Homo sapiens: one gene and its partners. The protein of the gene in region 1 purifies or fractionates together with the protein of each later gene. This does not show direct contact. Each region holds a gene or a part of one and is shown in the gene's direction. Other genes may lie near its edges.

Region 1 (8,060 bases):
TTCATCGTGTTCTAGCAAAAATCATTTCTACCTATTCCTTTCTTTAAATGTAGATTGATTTTCCTTTGCATAGCAGTCTTTTACATTTTGGGGGAGGATCAATTGTCAGGGAGAAGAAACGTAGTGCACATGGGATCAAAAATTAGAGAAGAGGAAGGAGATTCCTCCCAGCTGGGAAATAGCAAAGGCTCCCATGTGATTTACTTAGGCTAAGGCTTCGGAGATAATAATAGATGGACCTTTTATCAAGGTCCTGTATATTATATGTTAAATGAGTTGGGGTAGGAAAGCTACCACTTGTATTAAAAAAAACAAACACTGCAAAACCAAAAATAAAGCAACCGAGCAAATAAACATAAAAACAATAGCACAGTGATTTTGAAAATAACAATGCAGTCACTAGTTTTGAGGCATCATGATTGAAAGAATTATTAACACAAATCACAGTTGTGTCTTCTGCTATGTCTTGGGTGCATTTTGATTATATTTTCTTTCTAATACATTATTTTTCTTCTTTCAGGGTAGAGGAAGCAGTCATTTTGACTTACTTTCCTGTGGTTCATCCGGTCATGATTGCTGTTTGCTGTTTCCTTATCATTGTGGGGATGTTAGGATATTGTGGAACGGTGAAAAGAAATCTGTTGCTTCTTGCATGGGTATGATGTTATATTTTCTCTTTATTATAGTTAAAAAGATTAACCAGTAATATATTATTTTTTAATCAGTTCACAAGATTAGGGAGCAGTGATAGCAGTAACAACATCCTGTAAGAAGGGACGCTTTCGTTTCACAAGAGATTATTTGAATACACATATTTGCTGTACCGGATGAGGTATGGAAATATATATAAGCAATTTAATTATTTCACTCCAGCTACGTGTTGACATTTTCATTTGAAAGTATGAGTTCTTTCTAGTGTCCTTGTAGTTATTAGCACTCAAAAAGGCCCCTTGGGACTGGAACTGAGAAGCCATAAAGGAACTGTTTCTTTCTCTTCTATTTTTAAACAAATCCACCCTGTAAGCTCCTATGGAAATTCAGGTTGTGAGGTAGCAGACGTATGTAATGGTCCTGTCACTGCCTTTATATAGTTTAGAGAACATAAGCGAGTCTCAGTTTCTATAATCTTGGTTGTTGTTTTTTTAACTCTGAGAGTTGCACTAGGTACTTTTTAAATTAGTTTCACCATTCAAATTCTGTGACTAGTCTTTTAATTCAAAAGTAGGCAAACATTTTTAACATTAAAAAATTGAGTTGATTAAAATACTGTTTATATAGATATTTTTAGAAGAGCACTTAATGTGCAAAATATATACTAGTGGCACCAGGTAATGAGATTACTAACATATAGTTGCAGACATATAAGGCTGAAAAATTAATTCATTGAGTATACGCTTTTTTTATAGTAGGTCTCAGCCCTGGCTGTGTATTAATTTCATATAAAGAACTTAAACAATTTGAGTGGTGTGCTGGTAAGCTGGATCACTGGGCAGAAAAAAAGCTCAGATTTGTAGCATTTGGGGATTTCCGTGGGGTAAATTCTCCCAGCATGGTCAATTTTAAGTTACCAACATGAAATCACTGAATGTGGAACTGGGGACAGATGAGTACAAATTGGCTCAAGGAGCCAGCTCCCACACACTCGTGCTTGACTGGCTCCCATGCCAAGTCAATTAAAACAGAATCTTAGTGTGAAGTTGAACTAAAGCTTTGAATTTCACAGTATAACCTGTGTTAATGTATTACTTAGCTTCTTGGAGGGTAACTGTTCAGGTCGAATATTGAAAAACACAAAATGCTATAGAAAATAAAGCACACTCAGGCCGGGCAAGGTGGCTCACGCCTGTAATCCCAGCACTTTGGGAGGCCGAGGCAGGCAGATCACGAGGTCAAGAAATCAAGACCATCCTGGCTAACACGGTGAAACCCTGTCTCTACTAAAAATACAAAAAAATTAGCCGGGCATGTTGGCGGGCACCTGTAGTCCCAGCTACTCGGGAGGCTGAGGCAGGAGAATGGTGTGAACCCGGGAGGCGGAGGTTGCAGTGAGCCGAGATCACGTCACTGCACTCCAGCCTGGGCGACAGAGCAAGACTCCATCTCAAAAAAAAAAAAAATAAATAAATGAATAAAATAAACCACACTCAGAGATGGGGAAACATGCCTACTGCTTTATTTCTCTTCATATAGGTATATAGTGAAAGGGAGAATGGTGGAAATTTGGGATCTTATTTTGCAATTTTAGATATTTGGGCAATAATTTAAACATAAACAAAAGGACTTACTTTACATGAACCTTCTATAATTTGAGTAGAGTATAACATATTTCAAGTTTTAAATAAAGAGTCTCAGAATTCTTTTTTAAAACGCAGTCTTACAATGATGTCTCTCTTGCATAACCAATTAAGGTCTGACTGCCATTTCCTCCCTCCTCCCAACTTTTACTCTGCACAGTCCCTATGCAGTGGGATGCTGGAGGGAGGCAGGGCAAGTAGGGTCAGGTATTTCATGGAACCACAAAGGCTTTGGAAACACATTTTGAAAACTCTTTATGCATTCCCTTAGGCTGCTTAGATGCTAGTAATGCAAATTGACAAACAACAAAGTAATGTGGCCTGCTACTTGAAGTAGAGCAAATCTTAAACTTGTGAATGAGAGTCTAGTTTGTAATACTGGCAAGAGCATTATAATGCAAAAGTGGCAGGGATGACTGAGGTTCTAAAGGCCACTAATTTACTCATTCATTCATTCTCCAAATACTTACTGATCATGTATACCACCAATTTTTGCTATCAGACCTGTCTTTATGAGATAAGACCTCTAATAGGGTTTGCACTGGGTGCTATTGAGGCCAGAGAGGAAGAACTCTGAGCTCAGCCCGAAGGGTTCAGTGCCACCCTCTGGGAAGATGATGAGCATAGATTGATTTTGCTTTTTTCCATCTCTACTTTGCTTTTTGGATGTACTCTTTTTTACAAAGCATCTTTTTATGCATTGCTGTTCCATGTGTCCCTAGGTGACATCTACATCTTGGTTCCTCCTTCCTGTTGATTGCCTTTGGCTGTTCGTTCTCCATTCCCTTTGGGGTGCCTCTCCTCTCATGGCAGGCTTCTAGTCCTTACTCTGTCTAGACCTAACACAGCTTCCTTCTTGCTAAAGAATGATCTGTGGTCTCAACTACCATGTATCTATCACTCACAACCAATTTGCATCTGGTCTGTTTCTCAGGCTCTCCTCTCTGGCTTCCTCCCCACATCCCACTCCTCTAAATAGCTGCCTATTCCTCTCAGTTCAGATTCTACAGTCATGGGAAGTTGTCCTCTCTTTTCTGTCCTCCTCTGGGATGCCCAAGTTCAGGCTTTCCTAACTTCCTGCTCAGACAGGTGCAGAGACTCCCTATTGGGTAATGAAGTATGTACCAACACCTCAAATGTACACCAAGCCCTTCTACAATGGAGACTTGATCTGCCATTTTTTGCTTTTTTATCTACTTCATTATTCTCTGGTTCTGTATTTTCTGACCCCTGAACAAACTTTCTTGCTCCGTTCTTCTCTACATTTATTCTTGCTGTCTTCTTAGCCAGAAATTTCTTCTCAGTACTTTCATTTAAATATTACTAGCCCATGAAGACTTATCTGAAATGCTACCTCTTCAAATGATAATTATGACACTGATGATAATTGAAGTAGTTAACATTTCTTGAGTACTTACAGTGCCAGACACTGTAGAGTTTTACCTGAATTTTTTTTAAATGAAGAGTTCTTGTACATGAGTTAATCAATTTTATCCTCTCTGCTGAGTATAAAATTGGACTAAAACTTTGAATTACCCTTATTATTCACTTAATATAGATGAGGAAATGAGGCATAGAGAGATTAAGTGAGTTGCCTAAGTCTACACAGCTAGTAAAGAGAGGATCTAATATTCAGGCCATGGCAGTCTAGTTCCAATATTTGTAACAATTTTGCCATTTTACTCTATAATAGCTGATTTTTTTCCTAAGTGTTTACAAATGTGTCCTGTAATGTATAAAACATTTTCATTTTAAACCTGACGACAATTATCTGAGATAGGTAATTATTAAATGAGGTTCAGAGAGGTCAGTAATATGCCACAAGTCATTCGGCAATAAGGCTGGGAGCTTGGATTCAGACCTCGGCGTTCCTGATTGCAAAGCCCATTCTCACTGGGCCTTTACTGATGTCTCTAATAGACTTTTCCCAACTTTTGAAGCCTAGTGTATTTCTCTTATTATAAACTTCCTTTTCTTTTTAATAATCAGCCCAGACTACCAGACTACAAACAACTTCAGTAATATGAACCATTCACCTTGCTCATTGCTTTAATAAGTGTTTATTAAATCATTGAATAACAGACAGTGAATTAGAATAGTGAAAGTAGGAATGACCAGCACATCAGATTAAAGATGTTGCCTGGAAGGCAGTGATGAGAGTGAGATTTTAACAGAGGAATTTGACTGTTAGAAAAGGTTAGATTACAAGGGGAATGGCTCATGGAGGGGTGGGCGGTAAAATAGTGCAGAATGCGACATGATGTAAGGTCTTGGGCAAATATTTGCAAAGTAACTTACAGTATTTTTTGTGTGCCCTTTAACCTTTTATCCTAATTAAAAACAATTTTTTAAGGAAGTTTCTTACTTTTATTTTGGATGTAAATATTTAAACAAGCAGAATACATTCATCCAACTTGTCCATTTCCCTGTATTCAAAGTCTTGTTTTACTTTTAAGAGCTGTAAAACAGATTAGTGTGAGAAAGCTATTTTTCAAAAGACAATTGGTATCTCAGAGAGCTGCCATATCTCTTGAATGATTATATATATATAAAAAAGAGCTGGCAACTGGGCTGTTTTGCTGTTCAAGCAAAAGTAAAAATGCCATTATTCAACAGACTGATCAAGAAAAAGTAAATGAGCCTTCCTCAAAACAGGTCTTTATAACCAGCCTCCCTGCAGCCCTCATCAAAAAGCAACAGAAAACCTCTACAAGCTAAGAGGCCACCTATTGGAAAACATTTCTGAGAAACCTTGGTCATGAATTTCATCCTTCTTTTGAATGATAGATTTATAGATGTAAGTTGTTAAAGCACCCTAATTTAAGGTTCCCAAATAAAATAGAAGATGCCCAATTAAATTTGATTTCAGATAAACAATAAATAATGTTTTAGTATGAGTATATCCCATGCAATGTTTAGAATATACATATACTAAAACATTATTCATTGAAATTTAAATTTAAATGGACATAGGTATTTTTATTTGCTTTATCTGGCAAACGTACTCATTAGATTTGTTCTTAGCAAGTGTGAAACTGTCATAGAACAGAAATTTTTATGTATTTATATGAGGGGTTTAAGAATAATTAAATTCTAATTATAATGGGAAAACAAGCCAAAAATGACTAAGAAAAGAAACTGGAATATGCCATGCCTTTCACGGTAATTTCAGTAGTAGAAATTCCTTCTCCCATTAACAGAGAAAGTGAAGCTAAATTGAAATTGGTTTTAAGCCTTAGATGGTTACTTCCCAAGGCTTTAGCTGTAGACGAAATGAAATTCATTTGTTATTGCAGTTCTACCTTGCTATTAACATAGGCATTAGGAAAGCAGTGCCAGCTCAGGGGGAATGTAAACAGATTGAACAGACATGTTTATGATGTTGACAACAGCTGAATGTCACCATCAGGAGATCATCATTTGTCAGGATGTGATGCAAATATATGCTCAACTGCCAGCAAACCACAAGCAGTCAAGTGCTTGTCAGAAATTAAGTTGGATGTACCTTACGTATTTAATACAAATGAATCATTTTAAAAGGAGAAGTGCTTTTTTTTCCAATTTTATTTTTCCAGAGACTTTGAATATAACTATTGATTGTGTGCTTGCACTTTTAAAACTTTCTTTAAATATAGAGTGATTGAACCAGATCTGAATGTTTTCCTTAGTGGAAATCAAATGAAATTTTAATGGCCTTGGAGAAATTTCCCCTTGTTTTTTTTTTGTTTGTTTGTTTGTTTGTTGTTTAAAATCATAATGCAAATCAGAATATATTTAAGTAGTAATTGATTTTCTAAAAAGTCTCTGTTTAAGGCCTTCTCTTACATAGTCATGAATTTTATGATTATATAGCTAGTCATAAGTCCTTAAGTTAAAATTAACCTATTAAGTTGTATGTCTTTATTATTTTGTTTATATTTTTGGTTGATAGCCTAAACTTTATTTCTAAATGAAGATTCATCATATTATTTACCGTATGTTCAGTATCTGCCCAATATTTTACCTTTGTTTTCTCAAAATATACTCACAGCAACTCTATTAGACTAATTTTACAAATGAGGAAAAGTAGAATCCCCAAAGATACACAGCTGGTAGTTGTTAGCATTCAAATGCAGCCTGTGCTGAAAGACCATGCAGGTTTCACTACACCACAGTACTGTTATAAGGCATTTAACTAATTACTGGCATTGTTTCTAGAAGACTTTAACTATGCTTCATTTATCACTCCAAGGCATTCGGTAGTCATTTAATTTCTAAAAATATGGTCTTTTGGTATGCTTATTATAAAATGAACTTTAAAATTTCTACTGTAGTTATCATTTTTGCTTATCTTGTCAAAGAATCAAGCAGTTTCTCCTTTCCTTTTTACCTTCCTCACCTCTCATTCCTCTTTCCTTTCCTTTTGCCCTCCTTAATTGTGTATTGAGTACCCATCCATGATAGTTACTTGAGAGAACAAAGATGAAAGGGGTGAATAGAAAGAAAATTACAAAGCAAAATATAACATTAAATTTATAAATAATTGCTGTGGGAACCCAGAATCAGGAGCAAATGGAGATTTCCAGAATGTTTCACAGGGGAGTCTTTATTTGAACTGGATGTTGAAAAATACATAAGGGTTTGCCGGTGGAGACGAGGAAGGAAGAAGATTTACAGCAACATGAAGAGTGTGTATAAACACTGAGGAGTGAAGGGACAGGGTAAGCTTAGGCAAAACTTAGAAAGTCAGAGTGGCTGTGGTGTTGGTGCACAGTGAGAAGAAAATGAAGTTAAGTCCAATTGTGAAGGTCTTTATCAAAAAGTTAGATGTTATTCTTTGGGCTGTAAAGAACCAATGCGTGTTTCCAGCTTGTGATGAAATGATAATTCACATTTAAGCGGGAGACAATAGAAAGCCCTGTTAGTGATTACATTATCATCCCCAGAAGCCATGGATAAGGGTATGAACTAAGTAAGACTTAGGGACTGGAGGAAGGTGGCTGAAATCAGTAAACCTTGCTGAGGTAGAATTATGGATAAAGCATTACATGATAGTAATGTTTGTATTGCTTGACATCAGGAAATGAAAAATTATTCAGCATTTGTACTTTTTTATATAATAGAAACATATCTACTCAATACATGTACTTTATTTGACTTGTTAGCTAGAATTCTTTAGAAGTTATAATTTAAAATTTTTTATTTGTAATTATCAATAATAATTGTATATATTTATGGGGTACAATTTGATGTTTCAATGATGTATGTATACACGGTGGGATTCTTAGATGAAGCTAATTAACATATCCACTGCATCCACTTATTTTTTGTGGTGAGAACATTTAAAGTTTACTATTTTAGCAATTTTGAAATATACAACTTATCATTATTAAATATACACTTATACATCACTCTATAGTCACCATGCTATGCAATAGGTCACTAAAAGTTATTTCTACTATCTAACTGAAACTTTGTACCCATTAATCATCCTTTCACCCTCCTCCTCTTCACCCTACCAGCCTCTAGTAACCACCATTCTACTCTCTATTCCTCTGAGATCAACACTTTTTAGGTTCCACATATAACTGAGATCATGTGGTATCTGTCTTTCTGTGCTGGCTTATTTCACTTAACATAATGTCCTCCAGGTTCATCCATGTTACCACAAGTAACAGAATTTCCTTGTTTTTTTAGGGCTGTATAGTATTCTGTTGTATATATGGACTACATTTTCTTTATCCATTCATCTATTGATGGACACTTAGGTTGCTTTTATGTCTTGAC
Region 2 (3,500 bases), on another chromosome or scaffold:
GGCCTTACTAACAAGCTTGGCTTGCTGATTCCCTAGGCCTTATCTGATCCAAAGCTGCAAACTGGAAAGAGTTCAGTTTAAGAAGATAACCAAATACTTGGGGGTTATTTGTGGAGATAATGATTAGAATGTAAAAAGCCTTGACACTTTCAGTGAAGTTCACTGTAGTGTTGTGGTTAAAATCCCAGCCCCTGCTGTGAGACAGCCCTGGGCTCAAATTTTCTCTTTTCTACACTCATTAGTTGTACAACTCTGGGTTTTTGGAGTGTCTCCTCATCTATAAAGTGGGGGGATAATAGTACCCACCCCACAGCACTCTCGTGAAAATTAAATGAATAGCTGGGTGTGTTGGTGTGTGCCTGTCCCAGCTACTTGGGAGGCTGAGGTGGGAGGATCCCTTCAGTCCAGGAGGTTGAGGCTGCAGTGAGCTATGACTGTGCCACTGCACTCCAGCCTGGGTCACAGAGCGAGACACTGTCTATAAACACACACACACACACACACACACACACACACACACACACGCACACACGCACACACACTGAATGCTTGACAACTGTCTGGTAGAGTCACTTGTCATCTCCTGAACCTACTTTCCCACCCGTGATAGGAGGAAGCTGGGCTCCAGATGGTCCCAGTGTTCATCCTGAGCTGCAGAGCTCTGCTCTGTCCCTGATGCTCTGAGCCCTGCCCATCAATCAGGCCAAGATCAGTTCTGTGCTGGGCTGTATGGCCTGGAGCAAAGAGTTAGGGAGACGTGGGGCCCAGAGTACCTGGGTGACCCTGTCTTGCCTTTTCTTCTGCAGATATTGCTGTGGGAGCTCCGTTTGAAGGCTTGGGCAAAGTGTACATCTATCACAGTAGCTCTAAGGGGCTCCTTAGACAGCCCCAGCAGGTACAGAGAGACGGGGATGGGTCTGCTGCCCCCACCAGCCGAGATGGGCCTTCCTTGCTTTCCTTCACCCAACCCTTCCCTGTAGCCCCCTGGGCCCTGCTCCCCAGAGCCTGCCCCCACCACTTTCCCCTGCCCCCAGGTAATCCATGGAGAGAAGCTGGGACTGCCTGGGTTGGCCACCTTCGGCTATTCCCTCAGTGGGCAGATGGATGTGGATGAGAACTTCTACCCAGACCTTCTAGTGGGAAGCCTGTCAGACCACATTGTGCTGCTGCGGTGAGCCAGGAGGCCAGTGAATAAGGGTCTTTCTCTTCTTCATCTTTGTCTGCACAGATTCCCATCTGTGTCCATGTTTGCGCTAGCTCCTTGGAAGCCTGGGCCCCAACTCTGGCCTGGGGCAGGCAGGAGGCACTGATATCTGTCTGGCTCTGTTGTCTCTGCAGGGCCCGGCCCGTCATCAACATCGTCCACAAGACCTTGGTGCCCAGGCCAGCTGTGCTGGACCCTGCACTTTGCACGGCCACCTCTTGGTGAGATTGTTCTGCCCACCTACTCCTCATTTATTTATAGGGAGGCTAGGAGGGGCTGCAGCTCCCAAACCCCTCCCCTGGCCTCCTGACATCCCACCTTTAGAAATTTGATTCTTGGGGCCAGCATTTGCCCTCTCTACCCAACCTCATTAAAAAGCAAAATTCCTTGTAAGAGGTAATGGATGAAGTCGGGGGCAGTAGAGTATAGTGGTTCAAGGTGGGAGCTCTGGACGGCCTGGTTCAAATCCCAGCTATGCCAGTGCAGGGGTGGGGATGGGCTCTGGAAAGGGGGACGCATTTAAGTGGATGGATATGGAGGAGAGTCTCCTCAGGTGAATTATTAATCCCTCTTAGGCTCAGATTTCTTGCTTGTAGAACAGAATTGATAATAACTGATTCACAGGGTTGTTGTGATAATTAAATGAGAAAATATACAGAAAGTCCTTAGCACAGCACTGTGTATACCCTAAGTGCTCAAAAAATGTTAGTTGCTAAGAAAGTGACAGTAATGATGGCGATGACCCCAAGGTCTTTAAGTGAATGAGGATTTTGGATCAGAAGACAAAGGCAGACAGAGCAGGGAAATGGGGTGGTTGGTGCAAGGAGACCTGGACTGGGGATTGGCCGACCTAGGTTCAAGACTGGGCTGGGCCACCAACTGACTGAGGACTTCAGACAAGTCCTTCTGGGCCCTAGGCCTCAGTTTCCCCATTAGTGACCTCTAACCCTGTTCTCTTTGGCTTTAAGGGGAGTGGAAGGGAAGGGGTCAGGGACACCACAGACCTGCTTTGTGGACTCCCCAGTTTTGTCCCTGCCTCTCTCCAGAAGGGCCTCGGTTTCCTTTTGCCCAGTACAGAGGCGAGAGCTAGGGCCTGGACGTGTGTGTCCCACTGTGACCCGCCCTCCTGTACATCCCTCCAACAGTGTGCAAGTGGAGCTGTGCTTTGCTTACAACCAGAGTGCCGGGAACCCCAACTACAGGCGAAACATCAGTGAGTGCTGGGGTGCAGCGTAAAAGGGGTACGCTCCCCTGTCCCCTTGCTGACCACCCTGTCTACCTGTAGCCCTGGCCTACACTCTGGAGGCTGACAGGGACCGCCGGCCGCCCCGGCTCCGCTTTGCCGGCAGTGAGTCCGCTGTCTTCCACGGCTTCTTCTCCATGCCCGAGATGCGCTGCCAGAAGCTGGAGCTGCTCCTGATGGTGAGGGAGGAGCAAGGGTCAGGATGAGGGCTCCCAGGTCCCTGGAGGAGGTGGCCAGTGTCCCCCTAGATCAAGGGTGAGGGACGGGGGTCTCCCCAGAGACAGAGGTTGGGGACATCGGTTTGGAAGGCTATTGGTGTGTAGGAGTACAGTGTACAGCACCCACACATGAGGAGTGATGGAGACCCTTGGGGTGGGGATGGGGCCAAAGGGCTTATTACCTCCAAGGAAAGTGAGGAGTGTGGGAGCTCTTGGCTCAGCCCACCTCTGGGAAAAGGGGTCCCTGAGTAGGGAGCAAGGTCAGTCCCTCTCTGGGACATCAGGGTGGAAGGGGAGAGCTCAACCTGGAGACCCTGTGGATGGGGAGGTGAAGGGACTTTTGAGGAGGAGAAGCCCTGTCTCTCCTCTTGGAGGGTCAGGATAGTAGGAAGTCGCAATTTGGCGACCGGACTGGAGGGAGTTCAGCCTAACTGTCAGGTTTTCAGGGTGGGGGGCGGGTCCAGCTCTTCTCTGGGGTTCAGGGTGGTGTGAGGATTCAGCTGGGGCAGGGAGCAGTGCAGGGCCGGGCTCAGCTCACCCTCTCTCCCCAGGACAACCTCCGTGACAAACTCCGCCCCATCATCATCTCCATGAACTACTCTTTACCTTTGCGGATGCCCGATCGCCCCCGGCTGGGGCTGCGGTCCCTGGACGCCTACCCGATCCTCAACCAGGCACAGGCTCTGGAGAACCACACTGAGGTGAGTGGGGCTGGCGCCTGGACTGGAAGACCAGGGGCCAGAAGGGCGGTGGGGCGAGAGGGCACTGGGGGGGGTGGTGCGGCCTTCACACCTCCGGCCACCCCCCAGGTCCAGTTCCAGAAGGAGTGCGGGCC
Region 3 (8,060 bases), on another chromosome or scaffold:
TAGGAAAGGGAAACTAAAACAAATTGAGAAAAAACATGAGAAGTGCTTTTACAAGTGTGATTGCTCAGAAATTGTGGGCCCATGTAAGGTTGACTGCAGCAATTATTAGTTTCTCCTTCCCTCCCCCTTCAGAAACAGACAGCATGAATATTTAGTGATTTTATTCCATGGATAATTTCTTTCCGTATTGAGTTGTCCTCCATAATCGTGATTCTTTTTTAAAAAAAGGAATTAAAATTATTTCAAAGAAAGTGTCACTATGATGATAGAAAGGAACAAAGAAATAGGAGCATCTATAAAAACTAGAAAACAATCTGGAAAGACTGGACAAAATGATGGAGGAGTACTTTGGCAACAATCACATTAATCTAGCGAAGGTCAAAGAAGAGACATCATGAACTCAAACCGAAGAAATTCACATGTGAATTCTGAGCATGAGTCTTAGAAACAGACTTTAGTGTACTGTTATTCACCTTTGTTTCTTCCAGAAAGCCATGGCAAATAACAGCGCAAAATTGTGATAGCAGGAGAAATGTTTGTAATTTCATGGGAACAATCTGTTTTCAAACATCCCAAACTATCCCAAATATAGCAATAGTTTTATGTAAATGGTGCTTGCAATTATAAACCTTTCTTCCCTGGCCATAAAATATGCCTGGCAAAATCTCAACTACCCAGACCTTTTCTAGGTTAGATTTTTCTCTATGTATCCAGGAGCAAAACTGTTTTCATTTGGAAATGTTCTATAATTCTTAACTCTTACATTCTCGGGCTGATCTTTTCTCTAATGGGTCTCACTTAATGAAATTGTTTGCCTTTAGAGACTTGGATAAAACATTTAGCCTATGTCTAGAAAAGAGGCAACAACAATCTACCCTAGCTTCTTTTTACAAAGAAAAGACTGGGATAGATTTTTTTGTCTCTATAAAAATTATCCCTTGACATCATGTTCAAGGGTCATTATTTATTAAACATGTGCCTACTGTTTGCCTGCCAATTGTTAATGCTTTCTGACTCACATTTATCCATTATCTGGCCTTGTAAAGGCAAGAAAGGGAGAATGTGACCCAGGCTCAGGGAAGGGAGTGTACCTGCTTGAACACCTAATATATGTGTCAGGCACCTCATATTGTATATTATAATCATTGCCAAGAAACCTGTGATGGCAGGCATTATTATTCCCATTATCCTGGTAAGGAAAACTGAAGCCCAAAATAATTAGATTGCTTGATATCATATAGCCAGGGAGTGGCAATGTCTGCCTTACAGCATTCATCTTCCCACTACTTGGATCTTCATATTGGAGGAACACAAGTAGAATGTAGGAGCCATCACATAGAAGTTCAGGCTCTGCTTCTGATCTGCTGGCAGTAATAATTTATACTCAGCAATGTTTCTAGAAAAAATAAATAATAGTGAAAGCCTTTCTGGGAGCTTTCAATGAGACTGTTCATCCCAGCCCTGAACTTGCAGCTGGCCAGTCCTAGGTCCCTGCTGCCCATCTCCTAGCAATTCCGGAAAGGACTGAGAGGGAGTCAGGCAGAAAAGACTGGCCACAGTGGCCCACCAAAGAGGACAGTGTGGCCACAGATTAGGATGTGCCTGATAGTTTTAAGTGGTGGCACCTCCTGGGTTTGGGTACAAAAGATCCTGGGAGTAGCAGGTTCATTTATAATCTTCATGGAAGACTAAGTTTCTCTAAAATTTGGAGTAAAGGCTGTAGAGCAAACAGGCAAAAGACCAGTTGATAGTGGAAACAGACTGCCTGGTGGAATCTCTATGAGAACTGAGGCATGCCAGGCTTTGAAGTGAGAGAGACCTGGTTTCCAATTCCAGCTCCATGGCTTGCCGAATGAGTGACTTTGAGGAAGTTCAGTAACTTCCTTCTTTGTGCCTCAGTTTCTTCCCATGCAAAATAGAGCTGTCTACCTGAGGGTATGGGTATGGGTGTTGGTGATTTGTAAAGCATCCAGCGGTGTCCAGCACATAATAGCCATTTAATAGAAGATATTATGATCTTGATGATAAAGTTATAAACTAAGCAGGTGTTTAGACTCAATTTTCTATTTCAGTCACAACTGAGATCTCAATAACTGCTGGGATCTCCTATAGCCTTAAAAGATTAGGAAAATGAACCTTATTGTAGTTCTTGTTAAGCACAGGGTGGGGCAGAAGAGCAAAGTAAATGTAAGCCACTGTGCTGGGTGCTAACAGGGAGGATAAAAGTAAAAGAGAAACAGCCCCGATATCTGTCTAACCTTCCTTCCCAGATGAGTGGAGGAAGGAGGGGCTGGAGGGGGATGAGTTTTGGACTTGGGCCAGGGAGGGGATTTCAGGAATGGAGGGTGGGAAAGCAAACTGGCAGGGAAGACCTGGAAAGTCTCAGTTGGGTGAGGAGTGGGGGATGCTGGCCCCAGGCCAGGGCATGGAACCAGGGCATGACTATCTGAACCGGTAAGGGCCACAGGAGCAGGTGGGGAACTGGAAGAGCAACAACAAAGGATAAGGAGGAAGAGGTTTGGGAGACAAAACCTAGGAAAAGAGGACCTGGTATGCTAAGGGCTGAGTCCTAACAGCTTCCTAACAGGACCCCCAAGCCATCTTCTACTGCTACCCACCAAGCTCATGGTGTGATAGGAGAAATGGAGGGAGTCAGGAAAATTGTGTTTATAATACAATAGACTTCTTGAGAGATATAATTTGATTTTTTTAAAAGGAACAAATTTATACTGAGTGCCTACCATGTCCAGGTGCTGTGGAAGGTGCTGGAGACTCTAAAGTGGAAAGAAAGAAAAAAGAGACAATTTTTTTGCCTTCATGATGCTTACAAGAAAATGGGGAGAGAGGGAGGAGGGGTGTTCTGTGCACAAAGATCAGTTTGTATCTGTTTGATTCATGACCGGAGTGAAGGGACCAGTTTCTAGTTGGAGTGAGCTGAGTTCCCATCCACCCTTTCAAAGCCCCCACCATCTCTCTGCTGCTTTGTTCCCTGGTTGCAATTTTCTTGGTGCCCTCAGCCTAGCACAGATCTTTTGGAGGTTGACCTGGGTCCCTGAAGATGAGCGGAGTTATGAGGCTGCCCGTGGGGAAAGAATGGGAGAAGAAGCATGGGTGAATCTTGTTCCTGAGGTTATAGAGGGTGTTTCAAGAGGTGCCATGGAAATAAGGGTGCATAGTGTTCACTGCTGCGAAAAAGGCAAAATACTTTTCCACTCTGTCGGAGTAAAATCGCAAAAATGCTCTTCTAGGGTGGGACAGGTGGGTCTTTATTCTGATGCTAATGGTGACATCTGGTCAGTCAAGGCTCTTGGAAGATTCAGCTCTGCATAAGCTTGGGGATGGTGAAGCTAATGTCCCAAGAAGCCCACAAGAAAAAGTTAGACTTGTATGTCTATGGATATGGTCAGGGGTTTCTGAGGCAAATCAATGTAGATAAGGAAGTCTGTGAGTTGGCATATGCTTGAGGAAAACATGGTATCAGGAGGCAGGTATTATACTGGTTTAGGTCAGGGCTTTGGTTTCAGATAGACCTTGGTTTGATTCCAGCTCTGCATTTTACCACCTATGTGAGTTTGGGCAAGTTACTGGAACTCTCTAAAGCTTGAGTTTCCTTATCTGTCCTAATAGTGTAGATCATAACAGTACTTTCTTGTAGGGTTGTTGTAAGGATGAAATAACTCACATTGCAAGTGCTCAATAAATGTTCTTATTAGCGAAATGATGGTTATCTAGTGATTCATCTAGAGCACAGCCCTCAAACTTGAATGGGTCCAGAGACCTGCTACTCAAAGTGTGGGCACCAGCCCAGTAGGACTGACATCAACTGGAATCTGATGGGAAATGCAGAATCTCAGGCTCTAGGCCAGAACTACTCAATCAGAACTTGCCTTTTAACAAGATCCTAGATGATTCACACGCACATTCCAGTCTGAGAAGCTCTGATCCGGAAGAGATCAGGAGATGTTCAAGTGCTGAAACACAAGTAAGGCATGGCAGAAGCTAAAATGTGAAGTATTGAGAGTAAACCAGGAGAGCAGATGGTTATTCCTTCCATCCCTTAAGGATCTTATCTTTCAAACTTCTGCTTTACCACTTCAACACACAAAACAGAGATAGATTTCCTTCTAGGAGTGTGTGTGTGTGTGTGTGTGTGTGTGTGTGTTGAGAACATCAATGGTTCAATAATTGCTTCATAGTCTTTTCTTCCAGGAAAGAGCATTTGAATTTGGCTACAGAGAATAGATAGGTGGGATTTTATTAGGCAGAGCAAGGTGGAAAGGACATATTTGGGAGACAGAAGACATAAGCAAAGGCAAGAGGCAGGAGAATTCAGGGCACTTTCTTGGACTCCTAAGTAGTTAAGTTTGACTGGAGTAGGGAGTGGGTAGTAGAGTGATGAGAATAGTTGTAAGTAAGACTGGAAATACATGTGAAACCTGGGTCATGAAGGGCCTTGACTCCTCTTCAAGATTTTGGATTTTATTCTGAACTACTGAAGGCATTTATTGTACATGTCTGTGCATTCTTCTTGCACAAACAGTCCAGCTCCCAAGGAAGAGGGGCCCAGCCCATTGGAGGTGGCCCCACGTCCTTCAGTGCCTGGAGTTCTTGTCCTTCAGAGTGGGCTGGGGGTGGAGCTGGACATCCTGAAAACTTTTAGTGAGATTGCAATCAGATGAGCTCATTTACAAATGGCCCTACGCTGTTGACTTGGTCATTTTATGGACAGTGCTAATGGCCCAGTCAGTTAGGCCTACGTTTGGTTCACCTGTGTATACATCACTTGGATATTATGTCCCATATCATTGTTGGCCCTTCTGAGTTAAGTTCGTTGGCACAGATTTACTTTGTCCACCCAGACTGAAACTGCACCTCTGAAGACTCCATCACGGAAGGTGACTCTGTGAATAACTGCTTAGTCAACCTAATAGATGATCTAGATGAGAGATTAGCAAATTTAACACTACTCCAAGGTGAGGTATCAAGCAGCTCTTCCCACATACAGGGAGATGGGGGGAGAACAGACTAAGGAAGATCTTGGACTCTCTCTCTCATTAGAGAAATGGGGGTGGGAATTAGGGACTAGCCTGTGTACTACTGACCTATGGCATAGTCTCTCAAAACCCATTTCAGAGCCAGGCACAGTGGTACATGCCTGTAGTCCTGGCTACACAGGAGGCTGAGGCAGGAGGATCCCTTGAGCTCAGGAGTTTAAGGCTGTAGTGTGCTATGATCATGCCTGTGAATAACCACTGCACTGCAGCCTGGACAACATAGCAAGACTCTGTCTCTAAAAACAAAACAAAACAAACAAACAATCATTTCTGATAGTTTACTTTGCCTGTCAAAATGAAGAGCAGGTAGGATAGAATCAAAAGCTTTAAAAAAATCAAAACAGCTTACAGCTGCTATTTTCTCTCTGCCTCTGCGATCATTCAGAGAAAATAAATTCACTGGTCTAGTCCAACTTATTCTTCCCTAAGCCCTGCTGTTTTTTTTTTCTAGTATTTCATATTGCCTTGGTGGTTGCTAAGTGATTGTTGGATTTAGCCCCAGTATATTCTCAGATAACTATGCCAATAATCTATAATTACCAGAATTCATCTTTTCTCCCTTTTGGAAAGATGGACTGGCTATTTTTTTCTTGTAAACCTTGGGTGTTTAATTCTGCCCTACAGGATGATGTCAGAGATAATAGCTGGTGAGTCTTTAATAATAACTGCGAATTCCTACAATATTGTAAGGTAAACGTCAAAAGGTTTCATGCATATATATGTATCTTTTAATCTTTCATTTGAACAGTTTCACTTTTTATGATCTTGCTGTTGGTTCTGGAATTATAGGACAAATTTTTCTTTTCTTTTCTTTTCTTTTTGAGACAGGGCCTTGCTCTGTCACTCATGCTGGAGTACAGTGGCTTGATCATAGCTTCCTGCAGCCTCTAATTCCTGGGTTCAAGTGATCCTCCTGCCTCAGCTGCCAAAGTAGCTGGGACTACAGGTGCACATCACCACGCCTGGTTAACTTTTTATTTTTTTTTTTAGAGACACGGTCATGCTATGTTGCCCAGGCTGGTCTCAAACTCCTGGGGTCAAGTGATCCTCCTGCCTCAGACTCCAAAGTGTTGGGATTATAGGCATGAGACAATACACCTGGCCCAGGGGATTTTTTTCTCCATCACTTAACATGAAATTCACCAAGCAAAACCTCTTACATAACCATGGGACCAATAATCTCAGATTCTCCATTCCCCTCCCCACCTTGATATTAGGATTATGCAGCTTAATGAGTCAAGCTGTCCCACCCTACCCACCTATTACTCCCACTCCCAGGATACCAGGAGTTTTGTATGGGATACATAAATGATCCTTTTTTCCATTCCGTTAAGCTGTATGCAAATTGTGTGTGTGCTTATGTACATTTTTCTGGGGATAACTTTGGTAGTTTTCATCAGATTCTTAAAGGTGTCTGTTTGCTAAAGCCAGATTAAGAGCTACTATAAAGAACACATAGCCTCCGTTATTCCAGCCCAATCTTTGGAAATAGAGATTATCAGAATGGGTACATCCTAATATTTGCCGCAAATGACTCTGAAGATGCGGATGCAATTACATAAATCCCAGGCTCCTTCAACATATAAACCCAGAAGTGTGATTTCAGGGCCCCAGACATGCCCTGTCTCTACTTCATTCTCTTGTCCCAAATTGCAGCACCCAGAATATTTCTTCCTAAGCATTACTCAGGCTATCCTATTTTCTTATTCAGAAACTATATTCCTGTTCTTTAGCTATTTCCTGCACAAATCAATTTCTTTTTTTTTTTTTTTTTTTTGGTAGTCATTTTAATTTACTTCTTGGTTTCAATTTGGATTGACTTTCTGCATTTTGCTACTGGTAGAATTGCAATGCATTGGGCCAGTGGTAGACCACTACCTGTCAGGAGAAATTTCTTTTGTTCTTTGGTTTTTACTCGCACATCACAGTGATGGGCGTCATTCAGTGGTTCTAAACCCTCAGTACACTTAGAAATCACCTAAGAAGCTTTGAAAACCATGAAAGCCTGGTCCCTATCTCCAAGGATTTTAATTCAATCGATCTGAATGAGGCCTGGGTGTTGACTTAAAAAAAATGCAACATGCATTGAGCCACTGGTCTAATCTAGCAGGAATTGGCAACGAGTGTGAGGGTCTTTCAAAAGATGCTGTTTTACCTGGCTAAGGTTGTGGCATGCCCACAGAGTAACCACCTCCTTTTCTTTCCCCAGATGGTGCTCCTGGCCAGGTGCGAGGGGCACTGCAGCCAGGCGTCACGCTCCGAGCCTTTGGTGTCGTTCAGCACTGTCCTCAAGCAACCCTTCCGTTCCTCCTGTCACTGCTGCCGGCCCCAGACTTCCAAGCTGAAGGCACTGCGGCTGCGATGCTCAGGGGGCATGCGACTCACTGCCACCTACCGGTACATCCTCTCCTGTCACTGCGAGGAATGCAATTCCTGAGGCCCGCTGCTGTGTGTGGCTTCTGGATGGGACAACTGTAGAGGCAGTTCGACCAGCCAGGGAAAGACTGGCAAGAAAAGAGTTAAGGCAAAAAAGGATGCAACAATTCTCCCGGGACTCTGCATATTCTAGTAATAAAGACTCTACATGCTTGTTGACAGAGAGAGATACTCTGGGAACTTCTTTGCAGTTCCCATCTCCTTTCTCTGGTACAATTTCTTTTGGTTCATTTTCAGATTCAGGCATTTTCCCCCTTGGCTCTCAATGCTGTTTGGGTTTCCAACAATTCAGCATTAGTGGGAAAAAGTGGGCCCTCATACACAAGCGTGTCAGGCTGTCAGTGTTTGGTGCACGCTGGGGAAGAATTTACTTTGGAAAGTAGAAAAGCCCAGCTTTTCCTGGGACATCTTCTGTTATTGTTGATGTTTTTTTTTACCTTGTCATTTTGGTCTAAGGTTGCCATTGCTGCTAAAGGTTACCGATTTCAAAGTCCAGATACCAAGCATGTGGATATGTTTAGCTACGTTTACTCACAGCCAGCGAACTGACATTAAAATAACTAACAAACA
Region 4 (7,789 bases), on another chromosome or scaffold:
AATGAGGCTGACAAGCTCCGGGCAGCCCTGGCCTGCAGCAAAGAGTTGTGGATCCTGAACAGGTGAGTCTTGGCGCAGGGTGGGACTGCGAGAGCCCTCTCCCCACCTGGAGAACCAGGCAGGCCTCCACACTCCTCGCCAGATCCTTCACGTGACCCCCACAGACCTGTTGAGGTGGAGGCAGTATTTCCAAAGTAACCGGTGCAGACTGGAAGCTTTAATAAGTGATAGAGACAAGATATGGACTCAGGTCTGGGTCCATGTCCTCTGTTCCTAGCTGCTGTGGCCTCTTAGCCTTTACCTGACAACAACTCGTCTTCCCTTCTGTCAAAGGCTCTGGTGTAGCTGGACCTGGGTCTTTTCAAACATCCAGCTGGGCACCCCCTCAAGCCCTTGGATGAGGGTCCCCACCTCCCACCATGTGCCTCATATGCCATTACCTGGATGCAGTAAAGAAGAGCCACCCTTGGGCAGGGTGTGGTGGCTCATACCTGTAATCCCAGCACTTTGGAAGACTGAGGTGGATGGATCACCTGAGGTCAGGAGTTCGAGACCAGCCTGGCCAACATGGAGAAACCCCGTCTCTACTAAAAATACTAAAAATACAAAAAAAAAAAAAAAATAGGCATGGTGGCACATGCCTGTAATCCCAGCTACCCGGGAGGCTGAGGCAGGAGAATCACTTGAACCTGGCAGGCGAAGGTTACAGTAAGCCCAAATCGCTCCACTGCACTCCAGCCTGGGCGACAGAGTGAGACTCCGTCTCGAAAGAAAAGAAAAGAGAAAAGAAAAGAAAAGAAAAGAAGGGCCACCCTCAGTGTCAAAGACGGGAGTGACCACCCACCTGGTGCCAGGGCTTGGGGCGCTAGGACTCCTTCCTTCATTGATTCATTGTCAAATATTTCTATGTCAGGCATGACACTAGCTTAGCCAGTGACCCTGTGACCCTGCTTAGGTGACTCAGTTTTCCATCTATAGAGGGAAGAAGGACCAAGGGGTCCCTCAGCCCCTGGCAGGCCGAGGGGATGTTGAGAGGATGCAGGCATAGGTGATGTGCGTGGGACAGTCCAAGTTCTCTCCTGAGTCACCTGAATTAGCAGTAGCTGAGACAGCATCTGGCCCTCTTAGGTACCTGAGCTACACCCTGAACCCGGACTTAATCCGGAAGCAGGACGCCACCTCTACCATCATCAGCATTACCAACAACGTCATTGGGCAAGGTCTGGTCTGGGACTTTGTCCAGAGCAACTGGAAGAAGCTTTTTAACGAGTGAGTCTGTGGAATGGGTGTCAGGGACAGCGAGCGCCGAGGCTGGGGCCCCGGGGGGTGGCCTGTGCGGGTAAGACACGCCGGGGGCACTAACCAGAAGTGGACAAAAATCAGCCAAGCCTGGGGGCTAGGGTGGGGCAGGAATGGAAAGACAAGCTGGGGTATGGGCCGTCCCTTTTCCCATTTGGAAGGAAAACGTGGCGTGTGGGCGTATTCTCCAGAAGAGAGGGGAGTGAGGAACTCGGCAGTCAGACCTGTGTTCAAGCTGTGACTCCCCCACATCCTAGTGGGGTCTCCCAGGGCGTGTCATTTCATCTCCTCTATAATCATGGCTCCCTACCCAGTAGGTGTGAGGATGAGCCTCCTTAGTTCCCGGCCTCCCTCACAGTTCACCTCTCTCCCTCCCTGCAGTTATGGTGGTGGCTCGTTCTCCTTCTCCAACCTCATCCAGGCAGTGACACGACGATTCTCCACCGAGTATGAGCTGCAGCAGGTAAGAAGTCATTCCCCAGACCTGGGCTCTGCCTACTTCCTTCCCAGGCCAAAGGGGCACTCCATTCTTCTCCCACGTGGCCCTGAGGGAGCACAGGCTCCACGCCGCCAGGCCTTCCTCATTTACAGAGGAAGCCGAGTAGCCAGACTTTGGAAATGTTGATAATTCAATTTAAAAAATTCATCTTGGGATTTTTGTATAGGCACAAAAGGGAAGAGTGGTATAATGAACCTCCATGTACCCGTTACCCAGGTTCAACAATTATCAACATTTTGCCAGTACTTTTTCCGGGCGGGCAATTTTTAAGCAAATCACTGATCATGTAATTTTACCTCTAAATAATTTAGTCATATGAAAAATAAACGCATTCTTTTATTTTTTTTATTTTTTATTTTTTTTTTGAGATGGAGTCTTGCTCTGTCACCCAGGCTGGAGTGCAGTGGTGCGATCTGGGCTCACTGCAAGCTCCGCCTCCCGGGTTCACGTCATTCTCCTGCCTCAGCTTCCTGAGTAGCTGGGACTACAAGTGCCCGCCACCGCGCCTGGCTAATTTTTTTGTATTTTTAGTAGAGATGGGGTTTCACCATGGTCTCGATCTCCTGACCTCATGATCTGCCTGCCTCGGCCTCCCAAAGTGCTGGGATTACAGGCGTGAGCCACGGCGTCCAGCTTTTTTTTTTTTTTGAGACTGAGTCTCGCTCTGTCATGCAGGCTGGAGTGGTGCAGTGGTATGATCTCGGCTCACTGCAACCTCTGCCTCTGGGGTTCAATCAATTCTCCTGCCTCAGCTTCCCGAGTAGCTGGGATTACAGGCATGCGCCCCCACACCCGGCTAATTTTTGTATTTTTAGTAGAGACGAGGTTTCACCATGTTGGCCAGGCTGGTCTCGAACTCCTGACCTCAAGTGATCCACCCACCTCGGTCTCCCAAAGTGCTGAGATTACAGGTGTGAGCCACTGCGCCCAGCAATAAAGGGATTCTTAAAACATAATCACACTGTCCTTAGCAAACCCAGGAAAATGATTATCTTCTTACTATCATATACCCAAGGCATATTCAAATTTTCTAAGTTGTTTATAAAAGGTCTTTTTACAATTGATATATATGCTTGAATTAGAAGCTTGACAAAGTCAACTTGGATTAAGTTAGTTTGTCTTTTTTAAAAATTGAGATATAATTTGCTGGGCGTGGTGGCTCACACCTGTAGTCCCAGCACTTTAGGAGGCTAAGGTGGGTGGATCACCTGAGGTCGGGAGTTCCAGACCAGCGTGGCCAACATGGTGAAACCCTGTCTCTACTAAAAATACAAAAATTAGCTGGGTGTGGTGGGGGGTGCCTGTAGTCCCAGCTACTCGGGAGGCTGTGGCAGAATAATTGCCTGAATCCAGGAGGCGGAGGTTGCAGTGAACCAAGATTGTGCCACTGCACTCCAGCTTGGGCGACAGAGTGAGACTCTGTCTCAAAAAAAAAAAATTGATATATAATTCATGGACCATCAAACTCACCATTTTAAGTGGTTTTCAGTAAACTAACAAGGTAGGGTGGGTGGGGTGCTTCATGCCTGTAATCCCAGCACTTTGGGAGGCCAACGCAGGAGGATCCCTTGAACCCAGGAGTTTGAGACCAGCCTGGGCAATATCATAAGATCTCATCTCTAAATAAATAAATAAATAAATAAATAAATAAATAAATAAGCTGGGCATGGTGGTGCATACCTGTAGTCCTAGCTACTCAGGAGACTGAGGTGAGAGGATCGCTTGAACCAGGAAGGCAGAGGTTGCAGTGAGCGGAGGTGGTGCCACCGCATTCCAGCCTGGGTGACAGAGCAAGACCCTGTCTCAAAAAACCAAAACCAAACCAAACCAAACAAACAAACAGAAAAAAACCATGTGGTACAACCATCACTACTGTCTAATTCCAGAACATTTTTATTACGCCAAAAAAAAACCTTGTACTCATTAGCAGTCACTCCTTATTCCTACCTGGTCCCCTCAGCCCCTGGCAACCACTAATATACTTTCTGTCTCTATGGATTTATTACCTATTCTGGATGTTTCATAAAATGGAATCATATACACACAGCCTTTTTGTGTCTGTCTGCCTTCTTTCACTTAGTGTAATGTTTTCAAGATTCATGCATACGGTAGCAGGGATCATTCTTTTTTATGGCTGAATAATGGTCCATTACATGGATGTACCACATTTTGTTTTCAGCTCATCATTGATGGGCATTTGGGTTGTTTCAGTCTTCTGGCTGTGATGAATATCATGGACCTTCACGTGCAAATTTTGTACAAACATGTTTTAATTTATCTTGGGTATACACCTAGGAGCGGAATTGCTGGGTCATTTGGTTACTCTGTGTTTAACTTTTTGAGAAACTGACAAAATGTTTTCCAAAGCAACTGTACCATTGTCCATTCCTATTAGCAGTGTATCACATGAGGGTTCTAATTGCTCCATGTCTACACTTATCTCTCTTTCCCTCTTTTTTTAGTATAGTCATCTAGTGGGTAGGAAGTGGTATCATTATGGTTTTCAGTTATATCTCCCTAATGAGTAATGAATGACATGATGTTGAATATTTCATGTGCTTATTGGCCTTATACACATTTGTGTATCTTTGGAGAAATGGGTAAAACTGACTATTTTTCTTTTCGAGAGAGGGTCTTACTATGTTGCCTAGGTTGTCCTTAAATTCCTGGGCTCAAGCAACCCTCCCACTTCAGCCTTCTGAGTAGCTTGGATTACAGGCATGTGCCACTGTGCCCAGTCTTTTGCTATTTTAAAATTGGGTTGTCTTTTTATTGTAAGAGTTCTTTATATATTCTGAATATTAGACCCTTAATCAGAGATAGGGTTTGCAAGTATTTCTCCCATTCTATGGACTGTCTTTTCACTCACTTAATAGGTCTTTTGATACCCAAAATTTTAAATCTTGATGAAATCCTATTTATCTGTTTTTTTTCCCTTTGGTTGCTTATACTTTATGTATCATATCTAAGAAAGTATTGTCTAACCCAAGGTCATGAAGATTTATACCTATTTTTTTATTTCAAAAAAATTTTTCAAACCCACAAAAGACCTGACGATGTTTTTTCTAAGAGTTTTATTGGCCAGGCATGGCGGCTCACGCCTGTAATCCCAGCACTTTGGGAGGCCAAGGCAGGTGGATCATGAGGTCAGGAGTTCAAGACCAGCCTGGCCAAGATGGTGAAACCCCGTCCCTACTAAAAAATACGAAAATTAGCTGGATGCAGTGGCGGGCGCCTGTAATCCCAGCTACTCGGGAGGCTGAGGCAGGAGAATTGCTTGAACCCGGGAGGCGGAGTTTGCAGTGAGCTGAGATCGCACCACTGCACTCTAGCCTGGATGACAGAGCAAGACTCTGCCTCAAAAAAAAAAAAAAAAAAAAAAAGAGTTTTATTATGTTTTCACTCAAACGTAGGCATTTGATCTATTTTGACTTAATATTTGTATATGATATGAGGTTGGGGTCCAACTTCATTCCTTTTGCATGTGGATATCCGGTTGTCCAAGTCCCATTTGTTGAAAAGACTGTTCTTCTCCCACTGAATGGTCTTGGCAACCTAGTTGAAAATCAATTGACGGTAAATATAAGGGTTTGTTTTTGGATTCTCAATTCTATTTCATTCATCTATATTTGCATCCTTATGCCTGTACCATACTGTCCTGATTACTATAGTTTTGTAGTGAGTTTTAAAATTGGGAAGTGTGAGTCCTCCAATTTGCTTTTTTTTTTTTTGAGAAAGGGTCTCACTCTGTCACCCAGGCTGGAGTACAGTGGTGAGATCACAGCTCACTGCAGCCTCAACTTCCCAGGCTCAGGTGATCCCCCCACCTCAACCTCCTGAGTAGTTGGGACTATAGGCACATGCCACCATGCCCGGCTAATGTTCTGTATTTTTCTGCAGAGACAGGGTTTCACCATCTTGCCCAGGCTGGCCAACTGTGTTCTTTTTCAATATTGTTTTGGCTATTCTGGGTCCCTTGCAATTTCTTATGCATTTTAGGATCACTGATCAATTTCCGCAAAAAAAAAAAAAAAAAAGTAGTTAAAATTTTGATGGGATTGAATCTCTAGAGCAATATGGGGACTATTGCCATCTTAATGATGCTAAATCTTCCAGTCCATGGACACAGATTTATTTGGGTCTTTTTTCTTTTTACTTAGGTGTTCTTTAATTTCTTTCAAAAATGTTTTGTAGTTTTTGGCATTCCAGTCTTGCACTTATTTTGTCAAATTTATTCCTAAATATTTTATTCTTGTTGATGCTATCGTAAATGGAATTGTTTTCTTAATTTCATTTTCAGGTTTTTCATTGCTAATGTATGGGAATACAATTGATATTTGTGTATTGCTCTTGTATCCTGCAACCTTGCAGAAATCATTAGTTCTAATAGATTTTTTAATGGATTCCTTAAAATTTTTATGTATGCAAACATGTCATACACATAGTTTTACTTCTTCCTTTCTGGATTCCTTTCATTTCATTCTCTTGGCTGATTGCCTGGCTAGAACCTCCAGGACTGATAACTCTTCTAATTTGTAGGAGTATTTTTTTTTTAAACCCATTTATTTACTGAAGCAACTGGATCATTTGTGGTATAGAAATTTCCACATTTTAGATTTGGCTGGTTGCTTCATTAGCCCCTCTCTACTCTCTTGATTGGATTGATATTATAATAAAATATTACACCTGAAGGCCAGAATCTCCCTGAGCCAGGTTTTGCCTGGGATTGTCATTTTGCAACCTCTGTGTTCACAAGGACTTTGCCCGGGAGCAAGGTGGACGTCCTGCCTATCCCTGGAACAGGGTGTGGTCCCATCCATGGGGACTCTAAAGTGGGAGTGGAAAGCCAGAGGCCTGAGAGAGCTCCTCCTCAAGGCTGTTAGGGACCCAGCCGGACTGAGAATCTTTTGTTTTTCTGGCAGCTGGAGCAGTTCAAGAAGGACAACGAGGAAACAGGCTTCGGCTCAGGCACCCGGGCCCTGGAGCAAGCCCTGGAGAAGACGAAAGCCAACATCAAGTGGGTGAAGGAGAACAAGGAGGTGGTGCTCCAGTGGTTCACAGAAAACAGCAAATAGTCCCCAGCCCTTGAAGTCACCCGGCCCCCATGCAAGGTGCCCACATGTGTCCATCCCAGCGGCTGGTGCAGGGCCTCCATTCCTGGAGCCCGAGGCACCAGTGTCCTCCCCTCAAGGACAAAGTCTCCAGCCCACGTTCTCTCTGCCTGTGAGCCAGTCTAGTTCCTGATGACCCAGGCTGCCTGAGCACCTCCCAGCCCCTGCCCCTCATGCCAACCCCGCCCTAGGCCTGGCATGGCACCTGTCGCCCAGTGCCCTGGGGCTGATCTCAGGGAAGCCCAGCTCCAGGGCCAGATGAGCAGAAGCTCTCGATGGACAATGAACGGCCTTGCTGGGGGCCGCCCTGTACCCTCTTTCACCTTTCCCTAAAGACCCTAAATCTGAGGAATCAACAGGGCAGCAGATCTGTATATTTTTTTCTAAGAGAAAATGTAAATAAAGGATTTCTAGATGAGTGAGACTCATTACTAAACTAAAGCAGGAGTGGGTCAATACAGCAGCTGGGGAGGCCGGGTGGGGGAAGCTGGGTGCATGCGGAGCACCGTGGAGTCTGGGACCCCAGAGCACAGGAGGGGAGACGTGCCCAGCCTGCCGGCCCTTCCTGCAGGTGCCCTGCGCCTGTGCCTCCATGTCTGCCTGCAGGACTCCGGGCTCCTTTTCATGCTCTATTGACTGAGCTAGCTGGGTGGTTTGCAGGGCTCCTTTTATTCCTATTCTGATGGCAGCTGGAGCTGCTGGGTGGTGGGGAGCTGTGGACCCAGTGCTCCCGCAGTGAGTGGTGAGAGGGGCCCTGGCAGAGCGCAGGGAGTGCTCTCCAGGAAGCACCCTCCTTAACATGAGGCAAGGGTGCAGGGTGCTGGCCGTGCCCCTCTTCCTGCTCCACGGGAACACCTGGGATACCTGGGACAATGCGGGA

What was found.
Region 2: the proteins of TSPAN12 (region 1) and ITGA3 purify together in Homo sapiens (co-immunoprecipitation; one study listed by IntAct). This does not show direct contact.
Region 3: the proteins of TSPAN12 (region 1) and NDP purify together in Homo sapiens (co-immunoprecipitation; one study listed by IntAct). This does not show direct contact.
Region 4: the proteins of TSPAN12 (region 1) and ANPEP purify together in Homo sapiens (co-immunoprecipitation; one study listed by IntAct). This does not show direct contact.

What each region holds. Positions count from the first base shown.
Region 1 is NC_000007.14:120,831,373-120,839,432, reverse strand, and holds part of TSPAN12 (tetraspanin-12), read left to right. Parts: intron 1-520; coding exon 521-656; intron 657-8,060. UniProt on the Homo sapiens protein: Regulator of cell surface receptor signal transduction. Plays a central role in retinal vascularization by regulating norrin (NDP) signal transduction.
Region 2 is NC_000017.11:50,073,110-50,076,609, forward strand, and holds part of ITGA3 (integrin alpha-3 preproprotein), read left to right. Parts: intron 1-806; coding exon 807-895; intron 896-1,034; coding exon 1,035-1,171; intron 1,172-1,338; coding exon 1,339-1,425; intron 1,426-2,349; coding exon 2,350-2,417; intron 2,418-2,489; coding exon 2,490-2,626; intron 2,627-3,216; coding exon 3,217-3,366; intron 3,367-3,474; coding exon 3,475-3,500.
Region 3 is NC_000023.11:43,949,230-43,957,289, reverse strand, and holds part of NDP (norrin precursor), read left to right. Parts: intron 1-2,741; exon of another isoform or gene 2,742-2,774; intron 2,775-3,887; exon of another isoform or gene 3,888-3,971; intron 3,972-7,209; exon of another isoform or gene 7,210-7,263; coding exon 7,264-7,491; 3' UTR 7,492-8,060. UniProt on the Homo sapiens protein: Activates the canonical Wnt signaling pathway through FZD4 and LRP5 coreceptor.
Region 4 is NC_000015.10:89,784,433-89,792,221, reverse strand, and holds the end of ANPEP (aminopeptidase N precursor), read left to right. Parts: coding exon 1-62; intron 63-1,128; coding exon 1,129-1,269; intron 1,270-1,680; coding exon 1,681-1,762; intron 1,763-6,720; coding exon 6,721-6,873; 3' UTR 6,874-7,327; downstream 7,328-7,789. UniProt on the Homo sapiens protein: Broad specificity aminopeptidase which plays a role in the final digestion of peptides generated from hydrolysis of proteins by gastric and pancreatic proteases.